2 separate regions of the Homo sapiens genome follow, and region 2 is linked to region 1. Evidence: fine-mapped expression QTL. Tissue or cell type: lung. Region 1 holds a variant in brackets; the other region holds the start of a gene. All regions are shown on one strand. Distances are between the middles of the regions.

Region 1 (8,181 bases):
TTTTTAATCCTCATGTTCTTATGTCCCCCTTGGGGAAGGTGTGTGTGTTCATAGCAGATAACTATGTGTAATGGTTGCCTGATGCCTCCACATGCCAGAAATACATACACTGTTTATTTCTGAACACTCCCAAAAAAGAATGAGAGTCAATAAAGAGCAAAGAAGACATGAAAATCAAAAACAGAGAGGTGAGGTTTTTGGGAACCAGCGTGGCTAGAGGCAGGAAGCCTAGTGGCTGGCATATGGGTGTGGGAATCCTGGAGTCAGATCCCGGGTTCACATCTGGGGCATCACCGCTTACCAGCTCTTTGATTTCACACAAATAACTTGAGTTGTTCATTTGCAAAATGAGGTTCAGAACAATACCTACATCACAGTGGGTGGGGACTAAATGAAATGCTTTCTGTAAAGTACTTACTGCAGGGCCTGACCCATAGGAAGTGCTAAATAAATAGTTATTCTCATAATCACTGTCACTGATTTTGTATGTAACACAACTTCATTGGAAACATTGTTTTCTGGGAAAAATGTCTTTATAACAAAAATCATTTTTCTGATTTTAGAATTTATTGTAGAAATTTGGGAAGGCTCAGAAAAGCATAAGGAAGGAAAATAAGTCACTGCAATTTTTAAAAAATATATTTTCCCATCCCTCTCTCACTTCTTGTTGCTGTAATCTTCTAACCCATTGCTAACAACTGTTACCATTTTGGTGCATATGTTTCCAATATTTTTATGCATAATTTTGAATCATCTATATATACATATTTGTACATATATATTTTCCATTTCTTCTATTTTGTGTGTGTGTGTGTGTGTGTGTGTGTGTGTGTGTGTGTGTGTGTGTTTGAGACGGAGTCTTGCTCTGTCGCCCAGGCTGGAGTGCAGTGGCGCCGTCTTGGCTCACTGCAAGCTCCGCCTCCCGGGTTCACGCCATTCTCCTGCCTCAGCCTCCCGAGTAGCTGGGACTAAAGGCGCCCACCACCATGCCCAGCTAATTTTTTTGTATTTTTAGTAGAGACGGGCTTTCACCGTGTTAGCCAGGATGGTCTCGATTTCCTGACCTCGTGATCCACCCGCCTCGGCCTCCCAAAGTGCTGGGATTACAGGCGTGAGCCACCGCGCCCAGCCCTATTTTTAAATATTCTATACCATGTGATTCTGTGTGCTGTGTATCACCCTTGGTGCCAGGAAAACTGATAGAAGATTTATCAGACAAAACCCTGCTTTGTCTTTTGCCTTTTTAGTATTTCTGTTATCAGGCCTACATAGATTACAGGTATGACCTTGAAGTGGATGCAAAATAAGACAATGAAAATAAGAATTGTATAGTTGTGTCCCATGTTAACACAGAGATCCCCAGCTGTGGCCATGAGATACAAAATATGAATGGAAGATAGACTCTAGTACAAAGTGAAAGGAACACCACCCATTTGACAGATAAGAAAAACGAGGCACAGAAAGGTTGAATGACTTGCCAACAATCACACAACCACTAACAAGTGAAGCCCAGACTCAAATCCAGGCTGTCAGACCTAAGGCCCCTGCTGTTTTCTGACCTGACTACTACCTTGGTTTCTTAAGAATTGTGCTTTAAATACAGAAGTTAAGTTATGTCAGGATGATTTCTTTAGAACATTTTCTAAAATTGCCACGACTTCCACTGGCAAGTTAAAATGTGGTCTTCAAAGTAATTTTTAAGTACGTTTGATTAGGTTGCCCCTGGAAGCAGAGTACAGATTTAAATGTGGAGCATTATCACTGATTTAGAGATCCTGAGCCTTGTGAGTTGAAGCTGTGCCCTTCATCGGGAGGCTTGCTGCCCAGCCTCTAGGATGAAATGCTTAAGGAGAAATGATCTCTTTTTGGGGGCTGCTTCTGAAAGAGCGAAGTGGTAAATGGAATTTGTAAGTGGAAGTGAAAAAAAAAATCTGATTTCCAGCAAACTTCACTTGATTAATAAAAAATGTAATATACTTTTCTTTTTTTCCAGGCTACAGCATTTTATTGAGTCAGAAAATGGCTTGCGGAGTCATTATTTTTCAGTCTTTGTTGACATTGGATCAACACATTTTTAAGAACCAGACTTTTTAGTTATTTTAGTAAACATCAGTGTGACCTTGACTATGTAATAAAGAGTAGGGAGTTGCAAAGTAGTGCGTCCCTTCAAAGGCAGTAAAAATGAATCATTTGCTGCTTCATGTCACCTTCCTAAGCATGTATAATGACAGTGTGGTTTTGCTTTTCAGAATGATTGAATTTTGCTGTAGAATAAAACAATCAAGCAACTTTGTTTTCCAAGTATATAGCTATTTGGGTGATCACTTAGTTCATGGAAGGTGAAAATATTCTCAGAGAACAGCAGGGTTAAGCTTTTGTGATTAGTCATAGAAAATCTGTAGGTTGCTCTTACCCAGAAATGCCTTTGGGGTTCCATCCCTCCAGATTGGGAAGCCTATACCATGAAGCAGTGTTGATGCTCTTCAGGGAGCAGATGACTATAGCAGAGTCAGGGAAACTCAGAGACAGGCATGTGTTGAGGGAAAGGTAAAGAAAATATGGGTGCAATTATGCCTTGCAGTGTAGGTCAAAAACCTTGGAAAGGCAGGTGCCACATTGCGGCCCTCTTATAGCTCTGGCATGCTGAGAAAGAGAGAACTGGCTTCAGTGAGCTCAGAATCCAAAGACAAGGCTGGACTCTTGTAGGAAATAGGCAGGGGGAGGGGGATGAGTAGGTTAACACATGTAGAAGAGCTACCCTCTGGGGAGTGTGCCTTGGGTTGTTGTCAAACCCTTTCTGTGGTTTTATACACCTTATCCTGTGGCTCTCAAGCTTCTCCGAGCACCAACACAAGATTGCATTTTGATGCTTCTGGAAAGCAGCTTTCTTCCCAGAGCTCAGAGCTATTCAGGAATGTTAAGGGGGCAACCCCTTGTGGGTGGGGGGGGGCGAGTGGGTTAAAGCTGGGCCTGAGTTTCTTCTCTTGATCTCTCTACTGACCCCTTAAAGCTCAGGGTGGGGTACAGGGTGCTAGGTGGCTGGATTTGATGATACTGATCATGATGAGGCAGCACAGATTACTAAAACCTAATGTTTGTTTGCTTTTAATTGGATTTGTATAGATCCTGGGTGGTGATACAGCAGCTATCTCATGGGAAAAGTAGATGAATAATTGGTAAATAGAGTTGGTTTGGGAG[ATACAGTCATATAGAGG/G]GAGAAGAAGAAAAATACAGTTTCAGTTGTGAGGCTCAGCTGTGGACCAGTGGTGGTCAATAAATATCTGCTGGATGAGTGAATAAAAGAATGAATGAATGTCAGAATGCTGTTAGCAGATAGCCAAGCATGGACTCCAGGATCTGTGGATCTTAGGAGTGCTTTCTGAGCAAAAAATTTAAATTTGTAAATGTATTTAAGAGTAAGTAGGATCAGAAATAGTAATGGGCTGTGCAAGTGGAAACTGCGATGTTATTTTCAGCCACTTTTCTGTTGTTAGACACCTTAGGAGGAGAGTATACTTGTAATAATTAGAATTCAGGCAGAAGGGTAATTCCATTGACTTAGGACTGTGTGGTTAAACACATATGCCTTGAACAGTGTGCCAGGCTTTTTGTGAGGGGCTTAAGGGTTGGTGGTGAACACATTGGGCACAGCCCTGAGCTACCAGAGCTGCCACCTGAGGGAGATATTGCAGGTAAACATTTATAAAATCTCAGCACTTGTGAGGGGTGCCACTGTAAAGTGCAAAGTGCAGTGAGGAATTTTTTTGCAGGGGAAATGAACATGGTGGTGGTAGTGATGAAGAGGTGGTTCTGGAAGCCTTCTTCAAGGAGGTGACATTTACTGGTTTTTTTTTTTTTTTTTTTTTTTTTTTTTTAAGATGGAGTGTTGCTCAGTTGCCCAGGCTGGAGTGCAGTAGTGTGCTCTCAGCTCACTGTAGTCTCCGCCTCCCAAGTTCAAGTGATTCTCTTACCTCAGCCCTCAAGTAGCTGAAATTACAGGTGTGCGGCACCACACCTGGCTAATTTTTGTATTTTTATTAGAGATGGTCTTTCACCATGTTGGCCAGGCTGGTCTTGAACTCCTGACCTCAGGTGATCCACCTGCCTCGGCTTCCCAGGGTGCCGGGATTACAGGTGTGAGGCACTGCGCCTGGCCAAGGAGGTCATATTTAAGCAGCATTCTGAAAGATAAGCCCAAGTAAGGCAGGCATGTATGTAGGTGTGGGCAACAAGGGTGGGACAGTGAGTAGAATAGCGTGGACTAGAGAAGGAACATCATATGTAAACGGCCTGAGATGAACAGCAGCTGGGTGCTTTCAAGGAATGAAAAGGTGGCTAGTGTGTCTGGAAATTGTGTGAGAGCAGGAGTGGCATGAGGCAGTGGTGGCAGGGGCTGAGCTCACAGTCTTATGTGTAACATAAATAAATCTGGACTTTTTCCCAAGAGCAGTGGAAACCAGCAGAGGTTGAAAGTTGGGACATGGTGTGATCCTATATCCGTTTCATGTGCTGGAGGGGCCAAGAGTAGGTTTGGTGGCCCAGGGAAGAAGCTGTTGCCCAGGCTGTAGTGCAGTGACACAATCATAGCTCACTGAAGCCTTGATCTCCTGGGCTCAAGTGATCCTTCTGCCTCATTGTCCTGAGTAGCTGGGACCACAGGCGTGTGCTACCACGCCCAGCTAATTTTTGTATTTTTTGTAGAGACGGGGTTTTGTATTTTGTATTTTTTGTAGAGACAGGGTCCAGGAAAGATAAGATGGTGCTTGGATTATAGGCATGGTGATAGAGTTGGGCAGAAAGTTATGAATGAGAACTATGTTTTAGAGACAGAACTGAGAAAGTTTAGTGATTTGATGTGTATGTGTAGAGGGGGAGGGTTGTGGTGATGGAGAGGGGCGGGGTCAGGCATAATCAGGTTCTGGACATTAAAACTTAGTGGATGGCTGGGTGTGGGGGCACGTGTCTATAGTTCTGGGTACTCAGGAGGCTGAGGCAATGGGAATCGCTTGAGGCCAGGAGTTGAAGGCTGCAGAGAACTGTGATTACAACTGTGAATAGCCACTGCACCCCAGCCTGAGCAACATAGCAAAACCTCATTTCTGAAAAGAACCAAAAAACAAAGGACAAATAAACATTATTGATGAGGTAGCCATTCACAGAGTTGGAGGACACTGGAGAAGAGGGGAAGATCATGAATTTCAGGTGTGGGTATGCTGAGTTTGAGGTCCCTATGAGACAGACACATGAGTAGAGATGCAGTATATGATAAAGGCAGCCGTGATCAGTGGAGGAAAGACAAATTCATTCAATAAATGGTGCCAGGACAGGTGGCTAACCATTTGGAACAACATAAGTTCAATTCTGACTTCATGTCAGAATAAATTCCAAATGAATCAAGCATTTAAATGTGAAACATAAAACCATAAACATAAAACCATAAAGGTGCCAGAATAAAATATGGGAAACTTATAGAATGTTGAGCTTAGGAAAGTTTTTCTAAACATGGTGCCATAGGGTGAAACTATAAAAGAAAAGTTGAATTGCTTGATGACATGAGAAAAAAGAAAACCAACCTCCTGTATATAAAAAAATTGCCATATTTAAAGTTGAAAGGGTAAGCTGGAAAAATGTTTGCAACATGTGACAAAAGAATATTAACATTTGAAGAGCTTTTATAAATAAATAAGAAAAGTGAATACTTAAGGGGGAAAATTGGTCAGAAGACATATAAAGAGGTAATTTACAAAAACAATACAAATGATGAATAAATATATTAAAAATGTTCAACCTCTTTATTTGTTTACTTATTTTTGTTGAGACAAGGTCTCACTCTGTTGCCCAGGCTGTAGTGCAGTGGCACAATCATAGGTCACTGAAGCCTTGATCTCCTGGGCTCAAGCGATCCTTCTGCCTCATCGTCCCGAGGAGCTGGGACCACAGGCGTGTGCCACCACACCCAGCTAATTTTTGTATTTTTTGTAGCGATGAGGTTTTGCCATGTTGCCCAGGCTGGTCTTGAATTCCTGTGCTCAAGTGGTCCGCCTGCCTTGGCCCCACAACGTGCTGGGATTGTAGACGTAAGCCACTGCACCTGGCCTCAACCTCTTTAATATCAGAGAAATGCAAGCTAAAAAATGAGGCACTTCTCTGTCAATCAAATTGGCATATTTTGTTTTTGTTTTGTTTTTTAAATAATATGAAGGAGTATCAGCAGAGGTATGGGAGAGGCATTGACATATTCTTGTGGTAGGAGTAAAAATTAGTATGTAGTTTTAGTAGTTTCAAAAGATAAAATATCATATTTCTAACATTTACTTATTAAGTAATTCAACCTTCAGGATTTTTTTCCTAGGAAAATATTAGAAAGATTTAACTAGAAGGAGAATTCAATACTAAAATATTGCAACCTTACAGTTATTAATAGTATGGCTTTTTGGTCTGGAGTCTCTGATTTTTGTTTGAGATAGTAGCTGGAAACTTAAGCTGCTGTAGGCGCTTGCTCTCACTTTCCCTACCCTCTTCTCCCTTATGTTGTCAACTTTCCCTTTCTTCAGCTGGGAGTCTGAGGGTTTAACGGGTACACAACATGTATAAGTTGGTGTATCTTCAGACACCCACTTGTAGATCATTTGTGAATAATCTGCATGTCTCTCTATGAATGAGTGATACCCTTTCATTAGTCCTCTAATGAGGACTACCTAAAGAAATGATCACTACTGCAGAGAATGCTCTGAAGAGCTGAACAGTGTGCATTGGTGTCACCAGGTTGGAGTTCAGTGGACCGAGGCTGGACCTGTCTCCCAGAGTGTTCCCAGCAAACCTGTTCCGTGCTCCCAGGCAGCTGGTGCTTTCTTTTTCAGAGCTCACCTTGCACCCTCTTCTAATGGTTTGGTTTGAGTGTTTCCTCAGCTGGACTCTGTGCCAGGCCTGGCAGATTCCTCCTTTGTCTTGAGAGCCCAACTGAGTGCCTGGAACACATGAGGCATCCAGCAGATATTTATTGAACAAGAGTGTAAGGAGCAGTTTTGGGATTGTGCTTTTAAAAGAAAAATGGCCAAACTAGTGTGTTTCCAGAGGAGGCTGGTCAGGAGTAGTTAGTGGGGAAAAAATTTCATGTGAGGAATTTGAGGATACTGGGCATGGATAGTATGGAGAAGTAAAGCTATCAGGTAATATACTAACTTTTTTCAAATACTTAAAAGTGGCTAATGACTTAGTTGTCACTGTAGATGACAGGCATAAGAGGGAGGGGAGAAGAGACAGAGAGGAAGGTGAGATGTATATTTGGAGAAATAATAGCTTTCAACTCAGGGTAAGGCAGAATTTTAAGACAGAGCTGTCCACAATTGGGAGGACTTGTGGTGTGGCCTGAGCTGCTATTCTCCAGATGAGGTTGGATGACCACTGTCATGATAGCTGAGGAGGGGTCTTTTTTACAGATGGTGAGATGTTTAGAAATGGGAGGTCTTTCTAGTTCTAATGGTTTCATGATTTTATTTATGTATGTATGTATGTATTTATTTATTTATTTTTGAGACGGAGTCTTGCTCTATTGCCCAGGCTAGAGTGCAGTGGCACAATCTTGGCTTACTGCAACCTCCACCTCCCAAGTTCAAGCAATTCTCCTGCCTCAGCCTCCCGAGTAGCTGGGATTACAGGTGCCCACCACCGTGCCTGGCTAATTTTTGTATTTTTAGTAGAGATGGGGTTTTACCATCTTGGCCAGGCTGGTCTCGAACTCCTGACCTCGTGATCCACCCACCTCGGCCTCCCAAAGTGTTGGGATTAAAGGTGTGAGCCACCGTGATTGACTTCATGATTTTATGTTCACTCTCTGGGGAGAAGAGTAGAGTCATTTTATAAGTCATGAAACAAGGCAGAGGCCAAAGTAGAGATTGGTTGTCTCGAATTCTGTTTGCTCTGTTGGGTTGTGATTTATGTTTAGGCTGCTACTCACCCCTGCTGAAGTCTCAGTGCTTTAAAGCATTCGTGTTTACAGCACTACTCTACATCCATTGTTACTAAATCTATGCTTTGAACAATGAATCTTCCACTTCTTTTAAAATTTTTTTCTCTTTTTACTTGGACAGTAGCAAAATTGTTTTTGTTTTTAAGAAAGCTTTGGGATAGGCTGTTTTAATACCTGCTCTTCCTACTCTGTTTAATTAGATCATGCAACAG
Region 2 (8,181 bases), 35 kb before region 1:
GGTGGGCAGAGTTCTTGATCTTCCTCATAAGCCAGTGGTATAAACAATTGTTACACAAACTGTGGTCTGGTATCACCTGGAAGCTTGTTAGAAATGCAGACTCTCAGGCCCCACCCCAGAACTACTGAGTCAAATTTTGCATTTTAACAATATCCTCATATACACGGTAATGTTTGAGAGGCCCACACTCAAAACATCCTAAACTTTTCTCACCACCCACCTTCTCAATTACCTCTGATCTAATTGTCTCTTGTTTGATCGTCATGACAGAGCCCCAGGTGACACATATGTACTTTAAGGTTTGGGAAACACTGATTTAGTTGTCCTTACCCAATTGTCTTGGCGAGGCTGTAGACCCACATGACACAGGGCACGCCGATATCTGCATAATAAATTATCTGAAGCTACCTTTTTCAGGTGACAGTATAACCTGCAGGCATTGGATGCTTTGTAGTCATTCAGTTGAGACAGTTGAAAACTGAGCCCCAGACTAATAGTGTAAAGCAAGAATACCATGGACAGCGCTCCAGCACTCACTGTTCTTGGTGTGAGACCCTTGTAGGTCAAAACCTTGTCCAACCTGGCGGCCCAGGACGACTTTGAATGTGGCCCAACACAAATTTGTAAACCTTCTTAAAACATTATGAATTTTTTGCGATTTTTTTTAAAGCTCATCAGCCGTCCTTAGCGTAGTTTAGGTGTGGCCCAAGACAGTTCTTCTAATGTGGCCCAGGGAAGCCAAAAGATTGGACACCGCTGATGGAGGTGGTGGAGCGCCCACAGGGCCACTGGTGTAAGACATGCTTGGATCCATCATCACCTCACTCTGGGAATTGAACTTGTTAATTGTCCCCTCTGGGCCTTAGTTTCTTTCAGTTGTAAAATTGAAATGACAATACTTATCTAACATAGCTTGTTACTGGAAAAAAAATCACTATACAACACAAACAGGTGTTCAATCAATATTAGTTCCTTCTTTTTTCTTGTCTTATAACAACTCAATTAAAGTTAGTTAACAAAAAGTCCTTGAAAAAGAAAAAGAAATTGCCTCTAGTTTGGAGCTAATGTCCATGCGTACGGCACCAAAGCTGTCAAAATTAGTGGTGGTGGTGGTAGAAGGGGTGAAGTAGAGATGCCTAGCCTAGTGCCCAGAGTCTTCAAATTTTCTCACTAACTATAGGAGCCTCAGGAGGAGAGCTGGGGTGCAGACATGCTCAGCTCCTGCACCTTCAGCCTCAGTAGGGAGGCCCTGCATAGCTGCTGTGGCTTCAGCCTGTGACTTGGCTCTACACTAGGGATTCTGAGGAGCCATTCTTTGCAGAATCAGCCTCCTTAGCAACTCTTGTTAACCAAGCTGTGTTTGGTTCCTTTCTACTGAGTTTATCCCACCACCACCACTCCTCTGGGGCTGAGTCCCTTGCCCCTGAGCCTGAGTCTCCCATCTTTCTACAGCTGGCTTGCACCCCTTTGTGGAGCAGCTTTTCCCTCTGAAACTCAGTCTGTCTTTGGATGAAGATTTGGCTGAGGATTGCATCAGTCGGTGCCTTTACAGCTAGAGCTGCTTTCCTTGCTCCCCAAAGGTTTGTTCTGAGGTTCTTCTTTTTTATTTCAGATGGAGTCTCACTCTGTCACCCAGGCTAGAGTGCAGTGGCGCGATCTCAGCTCACTGCGACCTCTGCTTCCCAGGTTCAAGTGATTCTCCTGCCTCAGACTCCCAGGTAGCTGGGGTTACAGGTGCTCGACACCATGCCTAGCTAATTTTTGTATTTTTTTTTTAGTAGAGACACAGTTTCACCATGTTGGCCAGGCTGGTCTCAAACTCTTGACCTCAAGTGATCTGCCCACCTCCCAAAGTGCTGGGATTACAGGCATGAGCCACCCCACCATGCCCGGCCTGTTCTGACATTCTGATACCAAATATTTGTCCAACTCAGATTTGTTGTCTCCTCAGTCTACTCTTCCTCTTTTCATCTTATACAGCCCTAACAATAATCATCTTTTCTCTTCTATGCCATGGATCTAAAAGTTAAAATTTAAGATGCATCAGATTAAGATGACATTTTAGTTTCTCTTGTGGAATTTTATTTTATTTTTATTTTTATTTTTATTGAGACGGTGTCTCGCTCTTGTTACCCAGGCTGGGGTGCAATGGCACAATCTCTCCTCACTGAGACCTCCGCCTCCTGGGTTCAAGCAATTCTCCTGCCTTAGCCTTCCGAGTAGCTGGAATTACAGGTGCTCGTCACCACTCCCGGCTAATTTTTTGTATTTTCAGTAGAGACGGGGTTTCGCCATGTTGGCCAGGCTGATCTCGAACTCGTGACCTTAGGTGATCCACCCACCTTGGCCTCCCAAAGTGTTGGGATTACATGTGTGAGCCACCTGTGCCCAGCCCACATCTGCTTCTTAAAGATGTTCACTGCAGTGTCTCTAAAAATGTAAACCATATTTGAACCAGAGACCAGATGATGCTCAACAGTTGTCTGACACTACCAGGAAGCAGCAGTGGGCCCCTGGCCTGCATGAGTGGGTGGGGCAGGTCACTATGAGTGAGAGTGAATTGTAGTCAGTGGCTTTCTGGGATAAAAATACTACACTTCCTCTGGGTTCTAACTTGTTTTGGGCATAAGGTTTGTCAGGATTGACTCTCCCTTTTGCCTTCCATATTCTTCCACTTAAGGTAATTTATGCCCATCCCCATGTCTAGACCTAGATATGCAAATAATGTGATCCCAAATATCAAACTTATATTCTTTAAATATTGGCTCAGTGTTCACTGAGAGCAAAGACTGAGTGCTCTGTGGGAAGGGCACAGAAGGAGCATGGAGAATCCCTGGTGCCAGCCCTCCTTGTTCCCTCTTCCAGAGCACTGCAGCTTTGGTCCCAGACTTAACTACTCTGCTTCTTGCCGACAAGGCCAGGCAGCCTTCTGGCCTCTCTCCTTGAAAGACCGGCTGGTGACCACCTCAGTCACCCCAGGAGGCCGTTGGGTTTCACTCCTTGCAACCTACTTATGGGAGCCTCACTTAGAACCACACACATTACTTCTTCCTGGGAGGTCACATTTTCCCAGGAGTGTTTGGGGAGTCTCACATGCTGGTGCCTAGGCATCAGCTGACTAGCCCCTCCCCCCGTCTCGTTGAGGCGACACGTCCATATTTATTATTTATTAACAAGACGACCACACTCCTTGCCTGTTCTAAGGGGCGGGTGTGTCAGGAGAGGAAAAAAAGGGGGAGTCCTTTTGCGCCTCAATCTCTGCTCCATAGGCAAGAGCCTGGAGGTTTCTTTTACCCATCCTTCCACCTTGAGAGTGATGAACCTCCACGGCCCGAATCCTTTTTCAGTTCTTCCAAACAATTTAAAACTATCCATGCTCTTGTTAAAATCTGTGCATATATTACAAGCTTCTATTCTTTGTACTTATGAACTTTAATAAATGAAGTTAAAGGAAAAAAATACACTGAACACACACACAGTTGTTAGACAGATTTTCTAAAACAAAAGAGGGACCCCCGTCCCCCAACCGAAACCCTGTATCAGCGAGTTCCCTGATAGTGACTTCAAAGAGGAAAGACTTGAACTGGGTTTGTCAGAGAAATCTCTCTAGGTAGAGTATTTTGTTATTTGCCAAACCAGACATCTCGTCTCTGCGAACACCTGGTCAAGCCCGAGGTAATTGTGTAATGTAATAAGAGTGTTTTTATACATTATGCAAATACGCAGCGCTTTCCTGATGGCCAGAACAATCTGATTCCCGACTTTAATCCTGGCCCACGCTCCCAGCCCCCGCCTGGTGGCGTCTCCTGCCCGCAGCTCCGCGCCGCCCCAGGTGAGTCCTGCGCGTTCCCTACTCTGGGGCCCGCGGGAGGGGCTGGAGCGCAGGCGGAGGGCCGGCCGGGGTAGGGGAGGACCGGGATCCGGGCCCCGACTGCAGCTTCCTCGCGGTGGGGCCGCATTTCCAGGCACCTCCGCCGCCCTTGCCCGCGCGCGGCGAGCGGTTTTTGGGCGTGCCGCCCGGAGGCGCGGAGCCTGCCCGGCGCGCCTCAGCCCTGCAGATCCGGCCCCGGCGGAGGCGGCCGGACCGCGGAGATGCGGGGAGGGGGCAGGGCGCGGGGTAGGTGACTTTATCCCGCCTCTGTTTCCCTGCCCCGGGGAGCAATGACATCACGCGGCCTTCTCCAGGCGCCGACACAAAGAGCGGGGCGGAGAGGCAGCTGCGGGGGGAGCCGGCGGCCGCTGCTGCCGCCCAGGGCTCTGGGGCCCCGCCGGCCAGGCCCGCCGTCCGCGGCCAGTGCCCTTCCTCCTCCTCCTCCTCTGCCGCCGCCTCCTCAGTCGCCGCCGCCTCCTCAGTCGCCGCCGCCCGCGCCGCCCGCGCCCTCCGCGCGCCTCTGAGCCCGCGCCGGGCCGCGCCGGCCCCTTCCCATGCGGGCGGCGCGGGCCCTGGGAGGGGCGCCCGGAGCCAGCCGCGCAGCATGCACTGGGGGGTTGGCTTTGCTTCGTCCAGGCCGTGCGTGGTGGATCTGAGCTGGAACCAGAGCATCTCCTTCTTCGGCTGGTGGGCCGGGTCCGAGGAGCCCTTCTCCTTTTATGGGGACATCATCGCTTTCCCTTTGCAGGATTACGGTGGGATCATGGCAGGGCTGGGCTCCGATCCCTGGTGGAAGAAAACCCTTTACTTGACCGGGGGAGCTTTGCTGGCCGCAGCTGCGTATCTGCTCCACGAACTCCTGGTCATTAGGTGAGCCGGAGAGAGGGCCCCGCACAGGGGCGCAGAGAGGGGCACCTGGCTAGGGCAGGGCTGGCGCGAGAGGGGCCCGTGCCAGCCCCTCGGTCAAGCTGCCCAGATGCCCAAGCGCCCTGCAATTACCTTTCCCTAAAGGCATTTGTGGTCACCTGGCCGTGAGGGGCAGTTTAGAGTTGAAAGGAGAATTAAACCGGTGCTGGGAGGGAAAAACATTTGTCTCCCAAAATGCTCTGGGTCACTTGTCGTTATCTATTAAGAAATGGCCTTAGGAGGATCTAAGTGCAGTGTGTTTGCAACAATAGAATTGGGCCCTGCAGAAATAGGTTACACTTTTATGAAATGCCTTGTTTATAAGTAATAATGCTGGAATATTAACTGCTAACCTTATCTTTTACCTAAAGGTTAGTTCTTCCCTAAATGTCAACATCAAAAGACTGAAAAATTGCAAAAGCTCCAGAAACCTGCGGGTCCCTGTTAAAGATGCATGACCAAGTGTAGTGGTGGGCAGCTTTGATGCAGCCTTAACCTGGTTCTCTGCTTATCTGGTATTGAACGCCAAGCACCATCTTCAGGCTTAGATGTCATTGTTGTGTGAGCAGTAGGACAGGCTAGCACATGGGTGTGTTGGGCACAACACGGAGTCGCCCAGTGCCGTAAACAGTTGCATCCGCTGCCGCAGAATGTTTACAAGATTGAGTTGGAAATACCAGAAAATGGAGGCCCCTGCTGTTGGTACATCCAGCCGGGACGAGATTTTTGTTTGGGTAGAGTAATACCACAGGGCACTGAGACAGTCGTTTGGCTAATTGATACATCAATTAATGGTTAAAATTTCCATGCATTTGAGCCTTCCGTCACTGGAAGATTACCAGAAGCCCAGTTTTCAATAGCTCAGAATGTCTCTTTGCCAGTATTTTCTAAAGTGAGAGAAATGTGTCCACACTGCCTTATTCCAGTGGAGGAATCCTACACAATAGGTTATAAACAAAGACAGTGATAGGTGACCTGTACTAGCCTGCAGGGATCCCAGGAGATTATTGTGATGGCCTAATGTAGGCATTTGGCCTAACGTACATATTTTGAATAGTTCCCATCTCTGAAAGGGTGGGAAATCATTTAGGTTTGGAGAAATGTATTGGTTTTCATATTATTTAGCCATATTTGAGGAAGTTTATTTTAAGCTTGTTGCACATTTAATTCTCTCAACACATTGCCTTGAATCTAGCTGAACCAAACAAAAAAATTTAAAGAGAATTATCTCTCTAGATTATTTGTTAATTGTGCTAGTTTTAGAACTGTATTTCAAGTTAGATTTCAAGCTACCTAAAGAACTAAAACATTTGGGCAGTAATTTAAATGGTAACCCAGTTGTTTCTCAGTTGTATTCTAGTCTAAAGCCTTTGAGGAGATCCCAAACCATGAGGCTTCTCAGCAGTGGAGGGAGTGAAGGCTTCACAGGACCAAGTTTAAAACAAAGCTTAAATGACCTTGCAGAAACAGTGTGGAGCTCAGCTGCCACTCCGGAGTAGGCCCTGCCCTGGCAGGTGTTGTCACTGGAGACTGGAGAGCTCTCTGCCCACAGATAGCTACTAACTCATTTAGGGGACTATATACCTCAGCACTGGATGCTTATTTGGACTAAGGAGTTTAATCCTAGGTTGATTCACACTTTTTCTTCCTTTTTTTTTTTTTTTCTTTTGAGACTGAGTCTCGCTTTGTCGCCCATGTTGGAGTGCAGTGGCTCGATCTCAGCTCATTGCAACCTCCACCTCCCTGGTTCAAATGATTCTCCTGGCTCAGCCTCCTGAGTAGCTGGGATTACAGGCGTGCACCACCGCGTCTGGATAATTTTTGTATTTTTAGTAGAGATAGGGTTTCACCGTGTTGGCCAGGCTGCTCTTGAACTCCTGGGATCAAGCGATCCTCTGGCCTCAGTCTGCTGAGTTGCTGGGATTACAGGCATGAACCATTGCACTTGGCTAATTTTTTTTTTAACTTTTTTGTGGAGATGGGGTCTCACTATGTTGCCCAGGCTTGTCTCAAACTCCTGGCCTCAAGAAATCCTCCCTCCTTGGCCTCCCAAAGTGTTGGGTTTATAGGTGTGAGCCACCATACTTGGCCAGTTTTGTTTCTGGACAAATGTTTGAGTTGAATTAGAAAGCTCTGAAGTAATGCAAACAATAAAAAAGGGCTATTTCTGAATACTTAGTAGGATGGGCTTTGCATGTGTGACTGCATTTATTCCTCACAACTGTTGTTTGTTCATTTCATAGATAAGGAAATTGCAGCTCAGGGAGGTTAAGCAGCTTGCCCAAGATCACACAGTAAGAGTAGTAGGATCTAGATTCAAATCAGAGCCTGCAGTTTTTAACCACTGCCTCTTAGAAAGTACCTACTTTGGCCCGGCGCGCGGCAGCTTACGCCTGTAATCCCAGCACTTTGGGAGGCTGACGCGGGCGGATCACGAGGTCAAGAGATCGAGACCATCTGGCCAACATTGTGAAACCCCGTCTACTAAAAAACAAACAAAAAAACCCCACAAAAATTAGCCTGGCGTGGTGGCACGCGCCTGTAGTCCTATAGCTACTCGGGGAGCTGAGGCAGGAGAATCGCTTGAACCCAGGAGGCGGAGGTTGCAGTGAGCCGAGATGGTGCCACTGCACTCCAGCCTGGCGACAGAGCGAGACTCCGTCTCAAAAAAAGTACCTACTTTGAAATCCGTTTTGTTGGAGGAAGAGGAAGGAAGAGAAATGTGGAGAACTGAAGCATTGCTCAGGGAAGACAGACCTGTATCAGGTGCCTTTCTTGCAGCGTCTAGGGGAAGAGGAGTGGAGGGGCAAAGGGAAAAAAACCAGGCAGGAAGGTCAAAGACCAAGGCTTTAGAGGTTACATGATAACTACCTCCACTTAAGGTGAAATCTAGGTTTCAATAGTCTTTATAATTTAGGCAGAAAACAAAACAAAATCTGAAATATGTAAGATAGAAAATACACCTTAAAATGACTACCCTGAGTTTCTGGCTATTGCAAACTCTTCCCCAGCCTACTTGGATTTTCTGCTGCATAGACATAACCTTAATCTATGACTGTGTCTCTAGAGTGGAAGAGTAAAGTTGACAGGTGAGAATTACTTAGGAAGTTTAATTAATGAATATAACTGAAGTAGGTTTTTGGGGTTTTATCCATGTTTTTTAGCACCATATTTTAAAATAAATATTGTTCCAACACACTACTTTGTTTTCCCTGAGTGGAGATAGCTTGGCAGCTATCTTAAATTCAATCAGGCTTTGGAAATTTTTGTTTGTAAATTGAATGACTAAGTACTAACTTCATTACCAGTGCTTATTTGCACTTTTGACACACGGGCTCAGCCTCTTCTAGAGCATTTAGTTGGCGAATCAACATCTGATCTCTGCAAACTAACAAATCATCAGC

The links. PIP is the estimated chance that this variant, and not a neighbour inherited with it, causes the effect.
Region 2: FAXC starts here. The variant in region 1 is fine-mapped to the expression of FAXC in lung (TOPMed, PIP 0.95).

Annotation. Positions count from the first base shown.
Region 1 is chr6:99,310,927-99,319,107 of GRCh38, reverse strand. The region is part of intron 4 of FAXC (failed axon connections homolog, metaxin like GST domain containing); the gene reads left to right. Among named protein-coding and RNA genes, the nearest start is that of FAXC, 35 kb to the left of the region's middle. The variant ATACAGTCATATAGAGG/G (reference allele first, on the strand shown) is at 3,199.
Region 2 is chr6:99,345,667-99,353,847 of GRCh38, reverse strand. It overlaps FAXC (failed axon connections homolog, metaxin like GST domain containing), which reads left to right and starts at 4,174. Exons shown (of 6, transcript NM_032511.4): 1 at 4,174-4,741. The coding sequence starts at 4,476. RefSeq lists silencers at 3,825-3,904, 3,965-4,014, 4,085-4,144 and enhancers at 5,336-5,900, 6,791-7,291, 7,292-7,792.